2 linked regions of the Homo sapiens genome follow. The protein of the gene in region 2 interacts with the protein of the main gene of each other region in a biochemical or structural test. Each region holds a gene or a part of one and is shown on either strand. Other genes may lie near its edges.

The links. The genes of interacting proteins can lie anywhere in the genome.
Region 1: the proteins of PFN1 (region 2) and RHOQ form a complex in vitro, tested with the Homo sapiens proteins (one study listed by BioGRID).

The regions. Positions count from the first base shown.
Region 1 is NC_000002.12:46,545,431-46,549,180, forward strand, and holds part of RHOQ (rho-related GTP-binding protein RhoQ), read left to right. Parts: intron 1-3,750. UniProt on the Homo sapiens protein: Plasma membrane-associated small GTPase which cycles between an active GTP-bound and an inactive GDP-bound state. In active state binds to a variety of effector proteins to regulate cellular responses. Involved in epithelial cell polarization processes.
Region 2 is NC_000017.11:4,946,554-4,950,303, forward strand, and holds the start of PFN1 (profilin-1), read right to left. Parts: upstream 1,978-3,750; 5' UTR 1,842-1,977; coding exon 1,710-1,841; intron 268-1,709; coding exon 75-267; coding exon of another isoform or gene 1-74. UniProt on the Homo sapiens protein: Binds to actin and affects the structure of the cytoskeleton. At high concentrations, profilin prevents the polymerization of actin, whereas it enhances it at low concentrations. By binding to PIP2, it inhibits the formation of IP3 and DG.

The sequences.
Region 1 (3,750 bases), on a different chromosome or scaffold from region 2:
GTCAGAGCTGTTCTGAGTATGTTTAAACCCTGCTAGTATTTACTGAGTTTTTTCCTACATATGGGGCCAGAGGCAGACACATGCAAATATTATTTTATTTAGTCCATAAAACAACCCCATGAGATAGGTGGTATTTCATCTTTGCGGTGAGGAAACAGGCTCAGAGAAGCTAGGTTGCTTGCCTGAGGTCACACAGCTACTGAGGGGTGTTGCTAGGATTGGGACAGGGGTCTGAATCTGCTCCAGTTTGAAGTAGTTATACACACAGGACACCATGGGAATGCTGAGATGCCACGGGGTTGATTGGATTGTTTGTGCATCCATAGTTGTGGTACCTGTAATCTTCACAGCCATTCTCTGAGTGGGTGTTGGATGGCACCTCTACAGAGGAGAGAACTTAGATCCAGAGTCACTTGAAGTTGACCCCACTTACAAAACCAGGGCTTTCCATATATGGCCGTAATTACTCTTTTTAGTGGAGGATCATAAGATATAGACCAAGCAGGATGAACATATTAGTAAGGCTCAAATACTACTGTTTTCACCCAATGCTGGACACCATTGGTGGGGCCTAGATGTGTGTTAGGCCCCATTGGTGTTTTTCCCAGTGTCTAGACTTTTGTTTTTGCATCAAAGCTAGTAATATTTCATCTCCCAGCATTTGAGGGTTTATTACTAATAAGCAACTTAGCAATGATGAGACCAAATGGCAAGTGCCTGCTGTGTACCTGGTACTATGTCCAGGTACTTTTGCACCTGGGGAGTGCAAAGGAATGAATTTAAAATGGGGATCTACCACAGCTGATGTCAGCAAAGGGAGAAATGTCTGTCTCGGGTCTCTGTTCATGTGTTACATAGGAGATCTCTACATTGCACTTGGTCATTAAGACCTCAGGCTTCTAGGAATCCATATCAGATTTGTCTTACAATAATAACAATGATAAATAAACATGTAAATAAAAAGTAAATAAAAAACATTAAGGGTTTATATATATATATATGTATCCGTATACACATATACATATATATATATATATATATATGTGTATATATATATATATATATATATATATATATATATGTATATACATATATATATATACACAAATCCTTAAGCCTAGTGGGCAGCAGAGAAAGGTCCATGGGCTTTGGAACAAAACAGGCCTGGGCTCAGATCTCCACCTTAGCTAGTCATGTGATTCTAGCTAAATTATTTACCTTTGTGATCTAGTAAAAACGTGAATAATTAGAATCTGCATTACAAGGTCATAGGCTGGCTTAAACTCTTTAACATATTTAAAAGCAGCTGATACTTTGTGCATAGTGGGTGAGTGACAAATAGTACAGGAAATTATTATATTCCACTATGGGGAGTTTTGTGGGGAGAAAGGTTCACAGAGTGGAAGAGAACAGTATATTGTGCCTGGAGTTGATAGAAATTCCACTAGAATGCCAGATCCTAGAACCTTTTCAACCAAGGTGTGCAACAGCTTTGCGCATTGTAATTCCCATAGTCCCTATTGTGGGATCCATGGTTCCAAGCCCAGTGCTCCCTGCCGTAAATGCCCTGTTGTATCAGATGGTTTTCTGTCTTAAGCAGAGCCCGTATCCCCATTGATAGAAGAGAAATAGCTTAGAGTTCCATGCAGAATTTGACAGACAAGTAGGGTATGTAGGCTTCAGTTGGTTCTACTTTCAGAGAGTTAAGATGGAATGAGGCAGCTCATGGCACTACAGGTCAGTTGCCTTCTCTCCAAAATGTTCACTCATGCATGTGGGCACTCATTGTATTTGAATAACAGCAACAGTGCCTCCCTCAGTTTGGAACCTCTAGTCCACTTGCTCACTCATGGTCCCTGCCTTAACCCCAGTCAAGTTCAAAGCCATAGGCATCATTTGTCCGACTGACATATTAGGGCATCTACCAGTCAAAGGGTGATTGTTGTAGATGACCTTTGGCCTTCTAGAGCAGGCTGCTTTCCACTTGACCTCTGCTGCTATTAGCAGACAAAGAGAGAGAATGGGAGAGAGAGTGTATTGGACTTCAGTCCCCATCATGTGCACTGCCTGGGGACATCCCAGCACACTCAGAGCACCACTGCCAAAGGGAACACTTCCCCTCTGTTGGCCAAGCCCATGGGTGGTCCAGGAGCAGCTGTCACATTTTGACTGCCAAGCATTTTGGAGTGGAAGTTGACCGAGGCATCTTCCTTCTCACTAGGGGCCTTGCGTGTGTTTTGGGGGTGAGGGGTTGGCTTCCTGCCTGGGCCTCTGTGGAGCTTCTCCTTTCTTGCCCAGCCTTCAGGACTTCAGTGTAGGCTCTGCAGCAACCCCATTGTCTGCTCAAGGAGGGACTGGAGAGATGGGATTTTCCCTCCTGCTACTGCACTGTTTGGAGCGATGGGAAGTGGAAAGAGCTCTCCCTCTCTGTCCAGACAGGCCAGTGGGGAGCTGCCTGGCAAGCTGCTCTCTAGCTGTGGGCTCTAGGCTGATCTCTTAATCCTTGGCAGGAAGGCAGAACTTGATACCCTGGAGAGGGAAGGACTGAAGCCCAGTTTATTCAGGTCCCAGAATATCCACACTCAGGAGGATGTGTGTTGGGGGTGAATTTGGGATCCCTAGAGTTCCAGATTTAGCCACTGTCTCAGTGTGTGGAAGTCAATTTGTGTGCTTTGGGATGTATTGTTTCTATGTCTGTTAACTTAAACACACAAGTTCAGGGAAGCGTCCATGACAGCTATAAATATCTTTTACTCTGGTGTCCCTTGGTGTTGCTTTTTCAATGACAAGTGAGATTTGTTTTACACTTGATATAACCCAGCAGCTGTGGCTGCCCTGCATGCCCTCTGGGTGCCCACAAGGCACTTCCCCTACAGAAGGGAATCTCCACCGGAGGCAGGCTTGGCATGCCCCACCTTCTGCATTTTAGCAGAAGGGCCTGGCATGATGAGAAAAGGGAAGGAGAAAGGGCCATGGGATCACCACTCACCAGGCTCCTCCCACCTCCAGGCAAGTCATCCTCACAACACCCTTCAAGGTAGACTTCTCCCAGATGAGGAAATTGGGAACAAGTGGGCTTATGGGAACCAGACAGAGATGTGATTAGGAAAAAGGTTTTCTACTTTGGAGAAGGCCTGCAGGGAACATTAGTAGGGTTTAGGAAATGCCACTCACAACATCAGACTCTGGGTCCTTGTAGCCCCGTGTTCCATCCTTGCTCAGCCCGGTGAGCAGAGCCTGGGAGGAGCCCCAGGGTTCCTTCCAGGCATCAGCTGCAACAGGTGAGATGCTGGCACTGAGCATCCTGGTTTCCCTTAGTAACCTACTGTAGATTTGTCATGTGTGCATTTTGCTAACCTTTTTAGAAGCTATTTATATCTCTAGCCCACACCGCATCACACGGGAATGCTGGTTTCCTCCTCTGCGTTGGGAAGGTGGATAGCCTTTGTTGACTCCAAAGCCTTTGCTGTGTTCGCTCCAAAGTCTGAATGCCCTGTGTTCCCCTCCTTGGGACTCTGATGTGGGTTTGGGTTATGCCAGCTTAGACTGTGGGCTGGCAGGCAGGGACTTTAGGGTGGGGGCAGTCCCCACCAGCTCTCGTTGGTCTACAATTATGCCTCATAATCGGGCACATAATCTGTGCCCCATCCCCATCCTGGACCTTTGATCTGTTTGGCTTCTCCACTTCCATCATGATTCTCCTGAGGTTTGGTGACATTCCCACGCTTTGAACGACAGCTTCCCCGCAGG
Region 2 (3,750 bases):
CACCCTCAAGATTACCAGAAGGCGGTACATTAGAGATCTTGGAGCTAAAGGAAGGGTAAGACTCAGGAACTCACTCTTGTCAGTCTTGGTGACAGTGACATTGAAGGTGGGGGCCCCACCGGTGCTCTTGGTACGAAGATCCATGCTAAATTCCCCATCCTGCAGCAGTGAGTCCCGGATCACCGAACATTTCTGGCCCCCAAGTGTCAGCCCATTCACGTAAAAACTTGACCGGTCTTTGCCAACCAGGACACCCACCTCAGCTGGCTGGAAGAGGAACCAAGCGCCCATCAAGTTAGTCAGTGCACCAAGATTCCCACCGTGTTCTCCAAAGACCCACCTGTCTTCCACTTCTGAGAACCACCCCGCCGTGGGGGCTAAGTATAAATTATATACTCAGTACACATCAATGAACTGTGAGAAACTCTGAGGACTGTGGGACGTTAGTGCAGAAAAAGATCATGATTCTGAAACTTAGAATATGGAACCAGGGAGGAAGGGATGACATACTCCTCTAGAGATTTAGATGTCAGTGTTAATGGGGAAAGTAAACCCAGGAAATAAAGGGAGTCAGTGAGGTAAGTGAGGAGCCTTTGGATGCTCAGAACTCTCCTTCAGGAAAAGCAGAAGCGGAGAGGGGAAGGGAGGGGGGCGGGCGAGGCAAGAGAAGCAACTTTGCCCTTATTTGGTCAAAGGTTCTGCAGGAGCTGTTAGGGCCCGGACGCCTGGGTCTCCAAGTAACCTAGAGTTTAGCTCCAGGTATCTCTGCTCTGAGATGAGGAAGCAGACCCCTGGGGGCTTTCCGGGAAAGTTGGAAAACTTTTGAAGGTGGACAGGGGCCAGACCCGGCAGGCCAGCTCTCGGGTCTAGGTACCCCGGGAACCTTTCCCCCCTCCCCCTTTCACCCCAAGCCCCCACATCCGGTCCCCTCCCGCCCGGAAACCCCCTTCCCCCCCCTTTTGAACTTCCGCTCCCCCTCCCCACTTCCGGGCAGTGTGGACAGGGAGATGGTGGTGGGAGCAGCGGTAGTAAACCAATATACTTTCGCTTATGCTGTCTCAGAACTTCTCACAAAGTTCCCCTGCTCCAGGCCCCGCCGGATGGCGGGAAGGGAGGGCGAGGGGACTTCCGGGATTGGCCTCGCAGGAATGTTGAATCCAACGTGCTGAGCTGGGGGGGCGTGTGGTGGCCTCGCCCTCTCTAACGGAGTTAGGAGGGGCCAGAAGCCCACAGAGGGTGGGCAAGGGACCAAGACCACGCGCCTGGGGCTCCCTTCCGCACCAGGAGAAACAATGGTAGAGGGACGCGGGCTGGCAGCCGGACGGGGAGCTGGGGGTCCAAGGATCCCCGGGTCCCCTCTCAATCCCAATCCCCAGTAAAAACTGAGGCGCGTCCCCGCCCCGCCCTGGGAGAGGCGGAAGTGGGCCGCCGCACCGGGCGCCGCGCCCCTCCCCGCCCTGTGCCCCGGATGTAACGCCCCGTCGCGGAAAGCGGGGTAGCGGGCGGGATGGGCGCCGCCGCCTGGGGCATAGGACCTACGGGCAACTGAGGGACCCACTCACGTGCAGCCGCCATTCGCGCCGCTTCCAGGGCAAGCACCCAGTCAGGGCCTCTCGCTGCGCGCCCTAGACCGCGCCCGCCCCCACCCAAGTCCCTCCCTCAGGGTCCAAACCGGAGCAGTGCCCCGGACCGCGCAGGCCTCGCAGTACCGTGATGTTGACGAACGTTTTCCCGGGGACGGCGGCCCAGACGGAGGGCGAGTCCTTGTAGCCCACGATGGCCGCGTCCTGACAGGTCCCGTCCGCCATGAGGTTGTCGATGTAGGCGTTCCACCCGGCCATGGCGCTGCTACTGGGGCTGCTCTCGGCGCTGCTGCTGGGGCCGCGGACTGGGCTCGAGCTGCCTCGGCTGGCGGGCGGGGGGAGGCGGAGAGCTCGGGGCACGCGCTGCCGTCCGGACCGCGGCTCCGCTCGCTGTGCAGCAGCCCTCGCACCGCCACTTCCTGCTCCTCCCCCCCCCCGCCCCGCTAGATTTTTATTTGCAAAGGACGGTAGGGGCGGGGCCTACTCCCCATTCCCTCCCTCCCCCACTCGCCAGCCCAGACACCGAACTTTGCAAATGCAATTTTAAAAATCCCTCCCCCTATTGCAAAATTTGCAGAGTTCGATGGAAAGCAATGCAGAAGGATGGGGGGTGGCGGGAGAGAGGTGAAGGGTAGGGTTTGCTCCAATTTGCACTGAATATAAACCAGACTTTGGTATCGGGGCAGGGAGTGAGCCAGAAGAAGGAAGGAAGGAGAAAGCAGGAGGAATTAGCAAGCTGCAAATTTAGCAAATTAAGGAGAGTTCGGGGAGCCCAGGGTTAAACGGGATGACTCCTCCTTCCCCCACCTCCGCCGAAGGGAAGGACCGGCGGGCGGCGGCGCGTGTGCCCGCGCCTGCGCCTGCGCCGGGGCCGGGAGTGCATGGGGCGGTCGGGGCCGGAGCCGGCTGCACGGGAGCGCGCCCGGCCCGACCCGTGTGGACCCTGCGGGAAAGGAAGGCGGGCTGGGGACGTGTCTCCCGCCTGGCGGAAGGGGCGGGGGCGAAGCCGTGCGCGCTGCCGCCTCACCACCCTTGATTTTACTTATTCAAGTAATAAGAAAGCAAAGAAGAGTTTGGCCAAATCCTCTAGTCGCTCTCATAGCTGAAGGCACCCACCGGGGCCACTTCTGTCCCCAGCGTCTTCTCGGGTCGTGCAGGTTGGGTTCACCAGGGCCCATTCTCAGTCTAGAGGATTGTCCCTTCTCTGGATCGGCTCTAGCCCAGGGCCTCACCCCACATCCCAGCCCCGCCCGCCCCAGGCAGGCAATGTCTGGATCACCGGCCGTGCCCCTTGGCCTGTGTCTGCAGAGGTCACAGAGCGCGGACACCCGCGGGGCTTAACAGGCGGGGCTATTTTTCGAGGCGGAAGAATACTCAAGTTGCAAGAGTGGCAACTTTTTCAAGAAGGGGAAAGTCCCACTTCGGGCCCTTTGGGTTTCTTCGCAGTCAGATGTGCGCTCACAGCCACCTGGGGAGGGCGGGACGGGCGGGACGGCCGTGCGGCGGCCGCGGTGAAACCGCCTCCTCCGACCCGCCGCCGAGGGCTGGGCGGCTTCCGGAGCCTGGGCTAGGGGCAAGGGGTCACCGAGCGCGGCCCGGGCGGAAAGGGGGTTGGTTTTCTCTCTCCTCCCGAGCGCGGCGCGCATCCCTGGCGTCCACGCCGAATCCCACAGTCCCCGACGCCCCTCGAGTCCGTGTTCCTCGACAGCCGCGCGGCTGAGTCACTGGCGGGCTCGGGCGGGGCCGCACCCGGGCACGTGGCGGCGCTCCCCGCCCGCCATCTCCTGACCCCTGGCCCACCGCACCCCTACCCCAGGGTGGAAAAATCCCGGGAGGAGCGGCCTGAGATGAGGGGGCGGGGCGAGAGGGGAGACTGGACGGGTGGCGGGGCAGGTGGCCTGGGGTGGGGGCTGGGAGGCCGCGCGGGCCGGCGGGGCGGGGAGCAGGGGTGGGGAGAGGGCGGCGGGGGTGAGTCACCGGGCGCGCGCTGCCCCGGCGCCGACGGGAAGGGCCTCCGAGTCGGGCCGAGGCGCCGTGTGTCCCCCGCCGGTCGGCTGGTATGGCTGCAGAGGAGCTCGGGGCAGACCCCGCACTGGCCCCAGAGCCGGCAAAGTGGAGATCTCTACCGAGGGCAGAGACCTACCTCCCCGCAGTGCTACAAGTGGGG